Regions from separate parts of the Homo sapiens genome. Here region 2 is linked to region 1. The links come from fine-mapping of genetic effects on gene expression. Tissue or cell type: lung. Region 1 holds a variant in brackets; the other region holds the start of a gene. All regions are shown on one strand. Distances are from middle to middle.

Region 1 (8,186 bases):
CCTCCTTGGCCTCCCAAAATGCTAGGATTACAGGCATGAGCCACCATACCTGGCCCTAAGTCTAGTTATTCTACAGAATATTTTAATAATCAAAGGAGTCTCATTAAAATAGGAAACAAGAACAAGAATTTAGGAAAGTGATAATCATGGGGTATAAAACCTCATTTATGTGCAAGGAATAAGTCTAATGTTTTAAGATAAATTGTACAGCATGCTAAACACAGCTAATAATTCAGTACTGTAAATTTCAGTATCATTAAGAGCAAAACTTTCTAATGTTCTCATCACAAAAAAATGTTAAATACTTGAGGTGATGGATATGTGAATTAGCTTAATTTAATCATCTCACATTGTCTTCAAAAATTATAATACCACTTTGTACCCAATAAATATATACAACTATACTTTGTGTGTACATAGATATGTAAAACTGAAGGCACTCTCATCTAAGAAAAATGCATTTAATGTCCCAGGGATGAAATAAATTGCCAGGACCTAGAGCTATTGGTGTTTCAAGACCATGGACAGTTCCAAGTGCCTTTCCTCATGATTCTTTAATTATCATATGAGAGTTTTGAATACAGCAAACTCCTGTAGAAAATTTTTTTTGAGGGGTGAGAGTGGGTGAGGAGAATTGTATGTGTCTTAGACTATCAACAATGTGACATTAGCAATTCAATTTCTTTTCTTTGTCTCAGTAGGGCCCTTAAGACTCTGACAACCCAGGGAATCCTAGGTTTCATTCACTCCCTTGTCCTTAGTTCCCTTTTTTATTGACACTCTCTATTGGTCATTACTTCCTCATCCTCTCCTTCCCCACTTGCTCGCTGCTTGATGTTTATCTCAGGCTTCTCTAGGGACAAAGAAAATCATCCTTTCCAATTCTCTAAATTGTTGGCTTCTTTAGGTCTCATCTTTATGCCTGGAACCATCCAGATGAAATCCACTGACATACTGTATAGGTTGCAGATGTCTAAGGCCAAGGCTATTGTTGCTGGGGATGAAGTCATCCAAGAAGTGGACACAGTGGCATCTGAATGTCCTTCTCTGAGAATTAAGCTACTGGTGTCTGAGAAAAGCTGTGATGGGTGGCTGAACTTCAAGAAACTACTAAAGTGAGTATCTACATGTCTCAGCCTGGGTTTTAACTAAAACTGGAAACAGAGCCAAGCACTTAGGTGCAGGTGCTTTATTGAGGAGGTGCAGAAAGAACAGCATGGGACTAGGAAGAGTGAAGCTGGGAAGAAATAAAAGCTAACACAAGGGTATTTTTTTTTTTTTTTTTTTTTTTTCAAATCATTGCAAGGACTAAATGGGGCTTGATCTGCCTGGACCTTCTGAGCAGCATATAGAATGCCTCCCAGGATTGTCCTCTAAAGGATTGAAAAGCACTGATCCATTAGCATCTGGTCCCCACAGGTTCAGGGTTGTCCTGGGGGTGTTATTGCCTCCACACTTCTGGGCTGCGCACTCATGCGTGAAGAGTGGCTCAGAGTTCCATGCTATGGTAAAACAGAGAAACTATGGGGCACAAAGTGAATCACTTGTGATGCACACTGGAAACAACATGATGTTAACACCAAGTGGGTTGAAACCCACCCAGAACAATTTACTGGAACTATGACTCAAATCAGGGGTGAGGCCAAGGTCATGAGGGAAAACCCAAGAGATGGCTGATATACCAAGTTTCTGGGCTCTTCTTTCCACCTCTTGTATCTCTAAGAGAGGCTGATCAAGGGCAGAGGACTTTCCATGTGTTGATAGCATGGAAAGACCTTGATAGTCCTTCCAAAAGCCGATAGCAAGACTGGCTGGATTAATGATTTTCTCTGTCAACATGTCTGAAATCCCTCTAGCAGGGGCACATATGATAGGAAACTTGAAGGGATAACTTCAGCTTTTCCTTTCTAATGCCATGGTCTTTAAGGTAGCTGTCATGGAAATAAACACCATCATGCCTGCTTTTAAAGGCTCAAAATCAGGACACTGGAGATGTCCAAGAGATATGTAGGTGCTTCCAGGGAATAGAAGAGAATGCCAAGAAAGTACTTGGAAAACTTGTATTAATTCCACCCCTCCTGTCCACTTGGTGTCATGCCAGAGCTCTTCACAACAATTAGATTAGCATTTATTGAGTTCTTACTAAGCAATTTGCTCATTTCTTTGGTGGTAGAGATAACTCTATAAGACTTGATCTCACTTTTTTTGCAGATATAAAGTCAGACACAGAGACGTTAAATAAGTAGTTTAAGGTTGCATTGATAACAAAGTGTGAAACTTCAGTAGTTTTCAAACCCAACTCTGATTGACTCAGACTCCCATGATCTTAATCACTCAGCAGCCTCTCTTGTGAGGTGGGTCCATCAACTTGCCCTTTTCAGCACAGTGGGTGGTGGGAAAAGATGGGTCACTTTGATATCTGGTGTCCAGTCTAGCTCTGAAAAAATGACAATCTGTGTCTCTGTCAGTGAGGCATCCACCACTCATCACTGTGTGGAGACTGGAAGCCAGGAAGCATCTGCCATCTACTTCACTAGTGGGACCAGTGGTCTTCCCAAGATGGCAGAACATTCCTACTCGAGCCTGGGCCTCAAGGCCAAGATGGATGCTGGGTAAGCTGAGCTCTTTCTCTCTACAGAGAATTACATGAGTTTTGGAGTTAGAAGGAGAATGAGACCCAATTATATATTAAGTCAGGTCAACCGGGGTCCCACCTTCTGAACATTCATCTCCTGTTGATACAGGATGTGTGGATAGAACAACTTTTCTTCCCCCTTCCTACTTATACATAGACATATGCCTATAAACCTGCAGGCAGATACACACACACCTCTGCACACACACCTCCCTTTCCTCCCCTACACCTTAGTGTCCCACGCATCCTAAGCATGCACCCACCTATATGTACATGTGTTTTGTCTGTGTTTTCAGTTGGACAGGCCTGCAAGCCTCTGATATAATGTGGACCATATCAGACACAGGTTGGATACTGAACATCTTGTGCTCACTTATGGAACCTTGGGCATTAGGAGCATGCACATTTGTTCATCTCTTGCCAAAGTTTGACCCACTGGTTATTCTAAAGGTAAGAGAGGATCCAGTTTGCAGCAGTTATTCAGAGTGAGCCCGAGGTTTGCACACTTCAATTTATTGTAGTTTGTTTCAATTCATCTAATTTTTGCTAAACCCCTGCCATGTGGTGAACAGTGTTCAGTAAACGAGATGGAAATGGTCCCTGACCTCACAGAGCTCATGTTCTGGGGTAGGAGAGAGGCACATATATAGATAAAAGGAGTATGTTCAGGAGAAAGATATTGTAGGTCATTTGTTCACTCAACAAATGTAACGGGCTCTTCCGCTGGTGTCACCTATCAGATAGATGCTGGTGAACCACGTGTAAAAGGGAAAGCTGGAGTATTGGAGGGGATGCCATCTCGCTCTCATGAGTGTGTGTGT[GTGTT/G]TGTGAGTGCACATTTCATTTCCTTTTTTATTTGCAGCATAACACACAAACTGAAGGTAAAGTACACAGAGTGCCACCATCCTATGTGTACAGTTTGAAAATAATTTAGCTGTGTTAGATACTGTCTTAGTCAGCTTGGGCTACTATAATAAAATACCATAGTCTAGGTGGCTTAAATAACAGACATTTACTTCTCATAGCTCTGGAGGCTGTAAGTCTGAGATCAGGGTGCCAGCATAATTGGATTCCTGGGGAAGCCCTCTCTTCCTGGCTTGCTGATGGCTCCCTTACTGCTATATTCTCACATGGTTGAGAGAGACAGTGCTGGTATATCTTCCTTTTTACAAATAAAGGCACTCATGCTATCACTGGGGCACCTGCTTCATTACCTTGCATAATTACCCCTAAAAGCCCTGCCTCCAAATACCATCAAGTTGAGGGTTAGAGCTTTAATATAGGGATTTAGGTGGGGACACAACATCCAATTCATATCAGACACCCCTGTAAACACCACCAGATAAAGACATGAAACATTCCCACCACTGCAGAAGGTGTTCATACCCCTTCTCTGACAGCATCTGCCCCCCATAAGTTAATCATTCATTTGATACCTATCACCATAGATTAATTTTATCTCTTCTTGGAATTTCATGTAAATGGAGCCAAATTATATGTAATCTTTTGCATTTGGCTTCTTTTACTCAAAATATTCTCTGTGAGATTAGTCCACGTGTTGCATGTATCAGATGTTTGTTGTTTTAGCTGGCTGCAAAGTATTTCATTATGTGAATCTGTAAAAATGTTCCCCCATCCTATTGTTAATGAACTTTGGGTTATTTCCAATTTAAGATGGTTTTCTAGAAGCAATTCAGAAGAATAAATGGAATTTTTTCCTGTAGAACTTGATGGTACAGCCATTAAGTAAGACCCACAGACTGCAGCTATGCATTATCCTGTAGCAACAAAGCAATGAAAATGACCTCATTTTGCTTATGAAGATACACCCTATGTTGGACTCTATGATAGAGGGATTGGGTTATTTCCCTGCTGTGCCCCCAGATCTCTAATGGCCCATCCAGACATCTATTTGGCTGCAGCAAAGGTTCAAGCTAAGGCATAGATGACATCTTCAAAAGTCAAAAAGTCAGGTGTGATCTGGATTTTCATAGGAAATTATCTTCAAATAATACTGTCATTCTCTGTTTTAAGCAAATTCTTACTCTGTGTCCTTCTCAAAAGGACTTGAACTGGTTTTTATTAAGTTCCACCATTAAAAAAATGAAAACAGACATAAAATTATAAAGCCCATTGGGAAAATTTAGGTTGGAGGTGTAGGGTGGAAAAGACTAAGGAAATTAAGGAGAAATATAGCAAATGAGTATGTAGTTACAAGCTGAGCTTCTAGTAAGGCAAAGCAATAAGGAATATGGGATCATTTTCATAGCTTATATCTGTGTATCAAGCACACTTGAAGGAAATTATTGCATGATACTCACATTTGTCATTTTTTCTAGACCTTTTGCTTAAACCATTGCCATGGTTTGAATATTTGTGCCCCCCAAAACTCATGATGAAACTTGTAAACCAAAAATAAAATCCTAAGGCCCCATCCCGCCAGCCATCTGAATGGACTTCCTCCTTAGCCAGGGTTCTTTTAAAATTTAACCTGAGAGACTGTTTCAGGCCATGATAGGAAGTGGGAGTGGGACATGCCTCATTATACCTCTCTGGTATTAACATCAATACAGACTTTAAGTCTGATTAAAAAAAAAAGATTACAACCTGTTCTGTCTAAAGCCTAGTGCCAGTACCTAAAAGCTTCCTCTGCAAATAAGAACTTGGGTCTCCACAATTATTTATCTTAACTAAGGCATTCCTTTCTATTGATCCCAGGTCTTTAGATAAACTCAACCAATTGTCAACCAGAAAAATTTAAATCTACCTATAAGCTGGAAGCCCCCGCTTCAAGTTGCCCCACCTTTCTGGACCAAACCAATGTATTTTTTAAATGTGTTTGATTGATGTCTTATGTCTCCCTAAAATGTATAAAACCAAGGTGCACCCTGACCAATTTGGGCACGTGTTCTCAGGACATCCTGAGGGCTCTGTCATGGCCATGGTCACTCATGTTTGGCTCAGAATAAATCTCTTCAAATGTTTTACAGAGTTTGGCTCCTTTCATCAACAAACTCAATCCCCAGTGTAACAGTAGTAAGCGGTGGGGCATTTAAGAGATGATTGGGCCTCATGAGGGATTAATGGATTAATGGGTTATCCTGTTAGTGGGTTAGTTTTGGAGAGTGGGTCTGTTATATAAAAAGCCAGTTTTGCTCTACCTCGTGAGCCCCTTTACAATGTGATGCCCCGACCCTCCTTGGGACTCTGCGGAGTCCCCAACAGCAAGAAGGCTCTCACCAGATGCAGCTTCTTGACCTTGGACTTTCCAGCCCCTAGAACTGCAAGAAATAAATTTATTTTCTTCATAAATTACTCAGTCTCCGGTACTCAGTTACAGCAAAAGAAAACAGATTAAGACAATACTCTATTACATTCTGCATAAAGAAAAGCATGGGATGGAGATGGTGTTATACGACAGGAATACATGCTGCAAATAATGATCCCACTACTTGCTGACTAGGTGACCTTGGAGCAGCTACTTAACCTTGTACATCATGGGTTTCCCCTCTGTATCATGAGGATGATAGCACACACTCCGTGAGGTTATTGTAAAAATTAAATGAGATAACACAGGACATGGCAAGTATTCAGTACTAGGTCTTTTTGCAGCACTTGTTTTGAAATGTCTATAGATGTCTTTAGCTTTTCAAAGAACTTTTATATCTAAAATATATTCCAAAAATATTTTCAGGAAAATAAGGCTGGAAACAATCTATTATAAAGCTGGCTACAGAAAGTTAAGGAACTTAACCAAGACAGCTGCTGTGCTCAGGCAGCTGATCTTCCCTTAGTTGCTGGGGGGTGATCTACTCCTAGGGGTGTGTTAACGAGGGCAAGTCTTAAACTGGCAGGAACAGACATCCAGGATTTGACAAAAATGTTTCAAATTAGCCTTAGACTTTTTCACTACAATAATATGTATTCATTTCCCTGTTATTTGTGTCTTCAGGGTGCATGAGAGTTGTGGGGCTCATTTAACCTGAATCAGACATAGTAAACAAGCTAGGGTTTTCATCCAGACCTCTACAACTCCATAGCTCACAATTGTAACCACTGTGCATAGCCATAAGTTGGCATTTGACCTGGTGACCAATGTCTCACCTGGCTCTTGTCTTCCAGACACTCTCCAGTTATCCAATCAAGAGTATGATGGGTGCCCCCATTGTTTACCGGATGTTGCTACAGCAGGATCTTTCCAGGTGATGGGGCTTTGAGGATTGGTAAGAGAGTCTGGCCCCATCCCCCTGACTCCCTCACATACATTCATGCCTATCTATCTGAATCTCTCGCACACAGAGAGCCCCATGAAGCCATTTGCATCATCAAAGCACCCAGAAACCCAGTCTAGGCCTGAGTGGACTTTGGTTCCAGGGAGGCTGAGGGCAAACATTTATTTCTCTTCTTCAGTTACAAGTTCCCCCATCTACAGAACTGCGTCACTGTAGGGGAGTCCCTTCTTCCAGAAACTCTGGAGAACTGGAGGGCCCAGACAGGACTGGACATCCGAGAATCCTATGGCCAGACAGAAACGGTACCTGTTCCCAGGGGAACCATGGGCTGTGTGCACTTTTTGGGCTTCAAAATTCTCTTTGACAATAAAAATTGTTAGCCACCATGTATCATTCATCTATTCGAGAAGTATTTATTGAGCCTCTATGAAGGGACAGGTACTGAGTATTGAAAATTCCGCACAGAACAAAAAAGGCAAAGTTCCTGTTTTCTGGGAGATTACATTCCAGTGAGATTTGGGGAGAGAGAAAATAAACTAAGAAATATCTAGCATGGCAGGTGGTGAGAAATGCGATGGAAAAAGTAAAGTAGATGACATGGGGTGAGAAGTTGGTAAATCAGATATGGTAGTCAGAAAATTCCTCTGTGATGGGGAAACATTTTAGCAGAGACCAAAGTTTATCAAACATGTCAAGCACTGTACAAAGCTACTTAGACTGAAGTGAGGAATGGGAAGAAGAACCCACCATGACTTTACTGCACCTCCTGACATATCTTCTTGGAACTCTTGAGGTCTCATGTGCACAATGTGGATTTATGCTATTCTATACTATTTTACTTATCAAAACTACATGGGGAATACTTTTCCCCAACTCTTCTTCTCCTTTTTCCAGTGCCTCTTACTTGTGACTCTCAGCACTTCTTGCCTCTTCCTCTCCACTCTCTTACCCTGCATCCTTCTTTGGCTAATGAGTACCCTTGGAAGAACTTTTGCAGAAGGTTGACGGCAGCTCTGTGGTATGAAAGAGCCAGGAAGAGCTCTGCAAATATGAATAAGGACAATGGAGTTGTGGCAAGCATACCCTGGCAGGGGCCTCCCACCATTCAGAGGAGGACATGTTTAGGATATGCTTACAAGGACACTCAGGTTCCCATGATCTTAATCACTCAGCAGCCTCTCTTCTGAGGTGGGTGGATAAACTTGCCCTTTCCAGCACAGTGGGTGGCGGGAAAAGATGGGTCATTGTGATATCTTTTGTCCAGGCTAGATCTGAGAAAATGACAATCTATGTCTCTGTCAGTGAGGCATCCACCACTC
Region 2 (8,186 bases), 64 kb before region 1:
CACTTACTCTTTCTGAGGTTCAGTTTCCATGCCTGTTACATGGCATCTAACTCATGGGGGTGTTGTAAGCAAAGTAAATTATGTGGAATTTAGAAGATAATTAATGATATGAAGAAAAATAAAACCTGGAAGGATGATGAGGAACGCCTGAGAGGGGGATGGGATAAAATAAGAGGATTTATGCAAAACGAGCAGCTCAGTACCTAGAAGGCAGGAGCCCCTCACGCATCACCACCCTGGCCTCATCTCCTAGGGGAGAAAGATCTCCACTCACCCTGCTCCAGCCACACTGGTGTCCCTGCCAGTCCTCCAATACAATGTCTGGGCCTCTACACTTGTGGTTTCCCCTGTTAGGGAGGCTCTTCACCCAGGTGGACTCAGGGTTCACCCCTTAGCTCGTTCCAGTCTTTGCCCAAATGTCACTTCCACAGTTGGGCCTTTCCTGGCCACTTTGTTTAAATTTGTAAGTGCCCCATCCCCCTCTCAGGCGTTCCTCATCCTCCTTCCAGGCTTTATTTTCCTTCATAGCATTAATTTTCTTCTAAACTCCACATAATTTACTTTGCTTACCTGGTGATAGGTGCTCAGTAAATATTTGTTGAATGAATAAAGAAAAGGCTGTTGATATTATTAGCATCGTTATTACTGTCAGAGTTTGCAGCCTTTGGCTATCTGCTGCCCAACTGTTATTAAATACTGATGGAGATGACTAACATTCATTTCACTAAATTTTAACATCTGTGGGTTTTAGTCCTAGCGCTTTGCTCTTCTCTTTCTTTTCTTTTTCTTTGAGACAGTGTAGTGGCGCGATCTCCACTCACTGTAGCCTTCACCTCCAGGGTTCAAGCGGTTCTCCTGCCTCAGCCTCCTGAGTAGCTGGGACTACAGGCATGCACCACCACGTCTGGCTAATTTTTGTATTTTTAGTAGAGACGGGGTTTCACCACATTGGCCAGGTCGGTCTCAAACTCCTGACCTCAAATGATCTGCCTGCCTCGGCCTCCCAAAGTGCTGGGATTACAGGCGTGAGCCACGGCATGCGGCCCCACTCTTCTCTTTCCATACTTAACTTCCATACTTTTGTTGGCTTGTTTAAATGCATGACTTCAAATACACCCCTTTATAAGTTACTCTCTCATTTACTCTCCAGGATTTGATCAATTGATTACATTTACTATTAAGACCGTTTTCCATCTGCCTATTAGAAAAGCTCTTTTTGGTTGAACCACACTCACTGAATATCTGAATGTCTTAATTTGAACTCATCATGTCCCTTTCAACTTTTCTTGGCAATTATTCCTTTTCTGGATGTTGTGTTTGCAAATAATTCCTGGGATGTGTTTGACTCTTTTTTCTCCCAGGCCTAAATCAACAATCTAGTCTGGCATATATTATTTTGACATCTTTCACACTTGTCAACTGTTAGTCACAAACTAAAACACTTGGGTTATTATCCCAAATGTCCTTCATTCATTTTCCTTCACTCTTGCACACAGTTGTTTCTTGACATAACATAGGCACTTTTATGATGATACTCATTTACTGATAAAGCTGCTGCTGCTTTTTTTTTTTTTGACAGAGTCTTGCTCTCTTGCCCAGGCTGGGGTGCAGTGGTGCAATCTTGGCTCACTGCAACCTCCGCCTCCTGAGTTCAAGTAATTCTCCTGCCTCAGCCTCCTGAGTAACTGGGATTACAGGCATGCACCACCACGGCCGGCTAATTTTTGTATTTTTAGTAGAGACGAGGTTTCACCATTTTGGCCAAACTGGTCTCAAACGCCTGACCTCAGGTGATCCACCTACCTCGGCCTCCCAAAGTGCTGGGATTACAGGCGTGAGCCACTGTGCCCGGCTTAAAGCTTCTTTTTATAAAATAACATTAATTTCTTTCTGATTAGAAAAGAACAGGATTTAATTTCTAAAACATAGAACATACAGAAAAAATGAGTTAATTGAAATCATACATCATCTTACTTAGAGAAACATTCATATTTTGTTACGTATGGGATTAATATATACTTTTTAAAAATAAAATTGTGATTATATTGTCTATAAAGTGTATCCAGTTCTTTCATTGAACATTTATGAAACATTTGTCATGACTTATGATTATATATTCTTCTAAAAAGTACTGATTGAGAGTAACGATATTGAGATTAGACTGCTGGAGAAATAATGTTCAACAGTCCGTCCACCCCTCTGAGGGTAGAGATTGTATCTTTACATCTGGCTGCAGATTCAGAGATGAGGTTGTATCCTGGGTCGCAGTAGAGGACTGAATGCTGAGCAAATGGACATTGAGGGCTCATAAGATGGTTCCCTGTGGCCAAGCTTGGCGGCAAGGGAGAGGAGCTGCCTGCGTGGAAATGGGCCAAACTGGCCAGGCCAGGAAATGAGACAGAGTCACAGGGGAACAACATACAGTGATGGATAAAAATCCAGGGTGAAGTTTGAATCACTGCAAAGATAGGCAGTTAATGGCTCAGCATCCTCTCTATAGGACACCCATAACCCTGTCATTTGCAACAACATGGATGGAACTGGAAGTCATTACATTAAGGGAAGTAAGCCAGGCATAGAAAGCAAACATTGCACATTCTCGCTTACCTGTGGGAGCTAAACAGGAAAACAAATGAACTCATGGAGACAGTAGAAGGACGGTTACCAGAGGCTGGAAAGTGTTGCAGGGAGTTGGAGGAGAAGTGGGGATGGTTAATGGGTACAAAAAAGTAGTAAGAGTGAATGAATAAGGCCTAGTATTTCCTAGCACAATAGGATGACTATCTTCAAAAATAATGTAACCATACACCTAAAATAACTACAATAGTATAAATGGATTGTTTGTAACACAAAGGATAAATGTTTGAGGTGATGGACACCCCATTTACCCTGATGTGATTCTAACGCATTGCATGCCTGTATCAAAATATCTCATGTAACCCATAAATGTATATACCTACTATGTACCCACAAAAATTAAAAATAATTTAAAAAGAACTTCAGAGAACAAACAACAAAAAGACCGGTATGGCTGGAGCAGACTGAGACAGGAGGTTTGAGGCGAAAGGCTCACAGGAATTCCTGTGGGGCCCTGTAGGCAATTGCCAGGACTTTTTTTTTTTTTTTGAGACGGAGTCTCACTCTGTCTCCCAGGCTGGAGTGCAGTGGCACGATCTCGGCTCACTGCAACCTGTGCCTCCCAGGTTCATGCCATTCTCCTGCCTCAGCCTCCAGAGTAGCTGGGACTACAGGCGCCCACCAGAGTAGCTGGGACTACAGGCGCCACCACGCCTGACTAATTTTTGTATTTTTAGTAGAGACAGGGTTTCGCCGTGTTAGTCAGGATGGTCTCAATCTTCAGACCTCGTGATCCGCCCGCCTTGGCCTCCCAAAGTGTTGGGATTACAGGCGTGAGCCATCCCACCCGGCAATCGTCAGGACTTTGGCTTGGACTGTGAGTGAGATAGGGAGTTGCAGGAAGCTTTTTCGAAAAACCACCTTTGGGCCAGGTGCAGTGGCTCCCACCTATAATCCCAGCACTTTGGGAGGCCAAAGCAGGCAGATCACTTAAGGTCAGGAATTTGAGACCAACCTGGCCAACATGTTGAAACCCCATCTCTACCAAAAAAATACAAAAATTAGCCAGGCATGGTGGTGCATGCCTATATTCCCCGCTACTCGGGAGGTTGAGGTGGGAGGATCGCTTGAACCCGGGAGGTGGAGGTTGCAGTGAGCCAAGATTGCGCCACTGCACTCCAGCCTGGGCGACAGAGCAAGAGCCTGTCTCCAAAAACAAACAAAAAAACCCAAAAAACTTCTTTTGGCAGTGTACAATTATTATTACTATTTTTTGTAGTAAATTTACAGAGATCTGCAGTCATGACCACAATCCAAATTTAGAACAATTCTATGACTTCAAAGGGATGCCTTAGAGCCGTTCCCTGGAACCACTCCTCTGTTCTCTCTGTATCTACTGGAGGGTTCTAAGCAGAAAAGAAACAAAGTCTGACTTATATTATTATCACTATTGCACCTTTTCTGTTAAAACATCATAATCCCAGCACTTTGGGAGGCCGAGGCGGGCGGATCACGAGGTCAGGAGATCGAGACCGTCCTGGCTAACACGGTGAAACCCCGTCTCTACTAAAAAATACAAAAAATTAGCCGGGCATGGTGGTGGGCGCCTGTAGTCCCAGCTACTCGGGAGCCTGAGGCAGGAGAATGGCGCAAACCCGGGAGGTAGAGCTTGGGGTGAGCCAAGATCGCGCCACTGCACTCCAGCCTGGGCCACAGAGGGAGACTCCGTCTCAAAACAAACAAACAAACAAAAAAAAAAACCCGTCATAATCTTCCTGTTGCTTTTTCCGATTAGATGGCGACTTGAATTTTTAGGGAATACATCCACCAGTTTGGGCACACCCACCAGGCACGACAGTTGAGGTCTGATCTTCCAGCCACTGTGAGTACTGAGAAAACTTGGCAGGGGGCCACTCTCACTGGCTCAATGCACCCTGACCACTGGAAGCCACTGTGTCAGCTGCTGGGTTCTGGCTCTGCCCACTCTTGGCTGCATTTGGGGCTGAAGTTCCCTGTGGGAGGCTGTTTTCTGAGGGAGCTGAGTGTTTACAGCCACTCAGCCCTGCTCTGCTCAGCTGAAGCAGAAAACAGAGACCTTTTGCATTACTTTGGTTCAAGAGCAAGGTAATTTGGAAAGAAATTTTTCAGACGAAGGTATCAGCTGCCTCTGAGGCCTTTGCTGATTAAATCAAGAAGTGACATCTGAAATGGTGTCGGGGAATGGGAAGGAGGCCTGGGGATTCTAAATTATCAGCTGTTTAGGTGGCTGAGGAATCCAGGGGTGGGAGACTGAGGAAAAGGACTGGGGCAGAGCTCAGTTCAGGAGAGGTGAGGGGCGGGAGAGGTGAGGGGCGGGAGAGGTGAGGGGCGGGAGAGGTGAGGGGCGGGAGAGGTGGGTCAGAGAAAGGAAGTCTCTGAGGCTGCAGGCCTAGGCCTGGTGGCCACTGCAGAGGCTGGGGCCTATGTTTTTCCAGGAAGTGAAACCTGAAAGTCACTTTTCCCCTTTAAGCCTCATTTTCTTTATCTTTAAATGGAGAAAATAACATTTACAGCATAGAGTTGTTATAAAGATTTCATGAAATAATGCCTCTAAGCACTCTTAAAATGCTTGGTACACAGTAGGCCTTCAATAGACTGAAGCTGTTATGGTTTTTCTTGTTGTGCCACGTTATTATTGTTGGTTGTTATTACCATATTTTGTTATTATTATTACTAAGAGGAATTTAATGCAAGGAAACTGAAACTGAGGTCACACGCAGCTCCCGGGCCAGTGCCTCTCAAACTTTAACATGCATATGACTCATCTGAAGATCCCGTTAACTTGCAGATTCTAATTCTACATATGTAGGGTGGGGTCCCATCTGCTGGTCCCAAGATCACACTTTGAGTAGCAAGACACTAAAACTGGGCTGGGCACAGTGGCTCACATCTGTAATCCCAGCACTTGGGAGGCCGAGTTGGGAGGATCACTTGAGGCCAGGGGTTCAAGCCCTGCCTGGGCAACATAGTGAGATCCTGTTTCTACAAAAAAACTTTTTAAAAGTTAGCCACACATGGTGGCTAGTGCCTGTAGTCCCAGCTACTAGGAAGCCTGGGGTGGAAGGACTGCTTGAGTTTGAGGCTGCAGTGAGCTATGATGGCACCACCGTACTCTAGCCTGGGCAGCAGAGTGAGACTCTGTCTCAAAAACAACAATAATAAAAATTTTAAAAATAATAAAATTAAATAAAAAAATTAAAAAGACACTAAAAGCCCATCATGCCATACAGCAGCCACTTGTGGCTTTTGAGCACTTGAAGTGTGGCTAGTCCAAATTGACATGTGTTTGTAAGGGTAAAGTCTATTTCAGATTGTGAGGACTTAGTACCAAAAAAAACAAAAAATAAATAAAAGTATGTAAAATATCTCTTTAACAATTTATTCTTCTATTGACTAGGAATTGAAATGGTCATACTTTGGCTCTATCTGGTTAAATAAAATGTTTTATTATAATAAATCTCACCTGCTTCTACTTTTCTTAATGGAAGTACTAGAACATTGTAAATTGCACAGGTGGCTCACGTTCTATTTCTGTTGGACAGTGCTGCCCTAGAGCTGTCTTCAGCTTTGCAAGGTCAGTTCAGGATTGGCCAAAGCCTTTTTGAGGGATTCCTTTTGAAGTATTGAGGTTTGAGAAGTGGGATCTGAGTTCTGACCTCAGACCCAGATACCCACAAGTCAGTGAGAGGTCAAAAGGACAGACCTCGGGGTCAGAGGAGAGAAATGACCATCACACAGCAGAACTGAGACTGAAGGTGGAGAGTTTATTCTACAAGTCAGTAAGGATCACAGTCACCATCAGCACTAACCACAGGTTTCTCCTAACCTATGTGTTGTCCCCAAAGCCCAGAATTTATGACAATGCCCTCTTTCCTCTCTTTGGTGACAGACAGGAGGCGACTGCATGAGACCATGGCTGAGACACCTAGTCCTCCAGGCACTGAGGAACTCCAGGGCATTCTGTGGGTCTCATGGGAAGCCAGCACCTCTACCTGTTCCTCAGAAGATCGTGGCCACCTGGGAAGCCATCAGCCTGGGAAGGCAGCTGGTGCCTGAGTACTTCAACTTCGCCCATGATGTGCTGGATGTGTGGAGTCGGCTGGAAGAGGTGAAGCCTGTTCTGTCCTAGAGTCCATCTGGGGCATCTGAGGCTGCCCTCATGTACCACAATGAGACTCAAGGCTCCAAGCATGTTGATGAGGAAATTTGGACCTGGGAATTTTGCTAGTTCTAAAATGTAAACTGTTGGCATTTGAGACTTAGGAAAAAATTCTGAGTCAGTGTTGTGAGCCTTAGACATGCTTGTTCCTTCTCTGAAGTGTCCTGCATTCTTGAGCCCAAATCACACAGTGAGACAGTTATGTCCCTTCCGATTCCCTTCCAGTTGTTCATCAACTGAAGGAGGAAGTTTTGTTTTGCTGCTACTCTGTCTTTGATGTTTTTCTCTCACTGTCACGCCCTTCTCTTCTAAATAAGGAAAGAAGGCCGGGCGCGGTGGCTCATGACCATAATCCCAGCACTTTGGGACACCGAGAAGGGCAGATCACCTGAGGTCAGGAGTTCGAGACCACCCTCACCAACATGGTGAAACTCCGTCTCTACTAAAAATAAAATAAAAAAAAATTACCCAGGCATGGTGGCGCACACCTGTAGTCCCAGCTACTTTGGAGGCTGAAGCATGAGAATTGCTTGAACTCGGGAGGCAGAGGTTGCAGTGAGCCAAGATCATGCCACTGCACTCCAGCCTAGACAACAGAGTGAGACTCCACCTCAAAAAATAAAATAAAATACAACAAAACAAAATAAAATAAGGAAAGAATAGGGCTCAGGCTCAAAGCTTTTTGCAGATCATAACAGATACATAGAATTGAATAAGATAACCCTGATTTCTTTGTGTGTCTCTGTGCATCTGCTTTCTTCTTTATTTTCCCTTATATCTGTGTCTGTTGGGTCTCTCTATTTCATGGTTACCTTTTATTTGTGTTACATGATACTAACTTTTCATTTATAAGAGGAAGACATACTTCTAAAACTGTATTTCAACCAATGTGAAGCTTAACCAATGAGAAAAGCCTTTTCCCTAGGGGTTTTTGTCCAAAACAATTACGGACAAATGTTTAACTTCATTGTTGCCTAAGGTGGTGGATAACAGTAGGCACAAACAATAGATTCACCAAAAAGTGAAAAAAGAAAAGCTGGAGAATACAAAACTGGAAATATAAAATTTAATTCAAAGAATTGTATTCATGTTAATTATAAGAAGAGATTGTTTAAAGAAAAAATATGAAGTAAATGGCATTGTTAGTAGATACAATAAAATTAACTGTCAGCAGATGTAGTGAAACTTATGAAGGTGGTATGAGGATGACTGAGACTTAAAAGCAGGATTTGCAGTCAGATAGACATTGTTCATCCGTGTACTTGAAGTGTGACCTTGGACAAGTGCCCTAAGTTCTTTAGATCTCAACTTTCTCATCTGTAAAATGGTAGTCAGACCATATGCTACTTAGAGTAATAGTGAGAATTAAATGAGAATTGCATGTAAGACATGAAGCCAGGATGCTCCATTC

The links. PIP is the estimated chance that this variant, and not a neighbour inherited with it, causes the effect.
Region 2: ACSM5 starts here. The variant in region 1 is fine-mapped to the expression of ACSM5 in lung (TOPMed, PIP 0.93).

The regions. Positions count from the first base shown.
Region 1 is chr16:20,468,605-20,476,790 of GRCh38, forward strand. ACSM2A (acyl-CoA synthetase medium chain family member 2A) reads left to right here. Exons shown (of 14, transcript NM_001308172.2): 4 at 908-1,115; 5 at 2,469-2,612; 6 at 2,932-3,085; 7 at 6,758-6,837; 8 at 7,046-7,169. Among named protein-coding and RNA genes, the nearest start is that of ACSM2A, 21 kb to the left of the region's middle. The variant GTGTT/G (reference allele first, on the strand shown) is at 3,457.
Region 2 is chr16:20,404,965-20,413,150 of GRCh38, forward strand. It overlaps ACSM5 (acyl-CoA synthetase medium chain family member 5), which reads left to right and starts at 4,570. Exons shown (of 14, transcript NM_017888.3): 1 at 4,570-4,701; 2 at 6,506-6,724. The coding sequence starts at 6,521.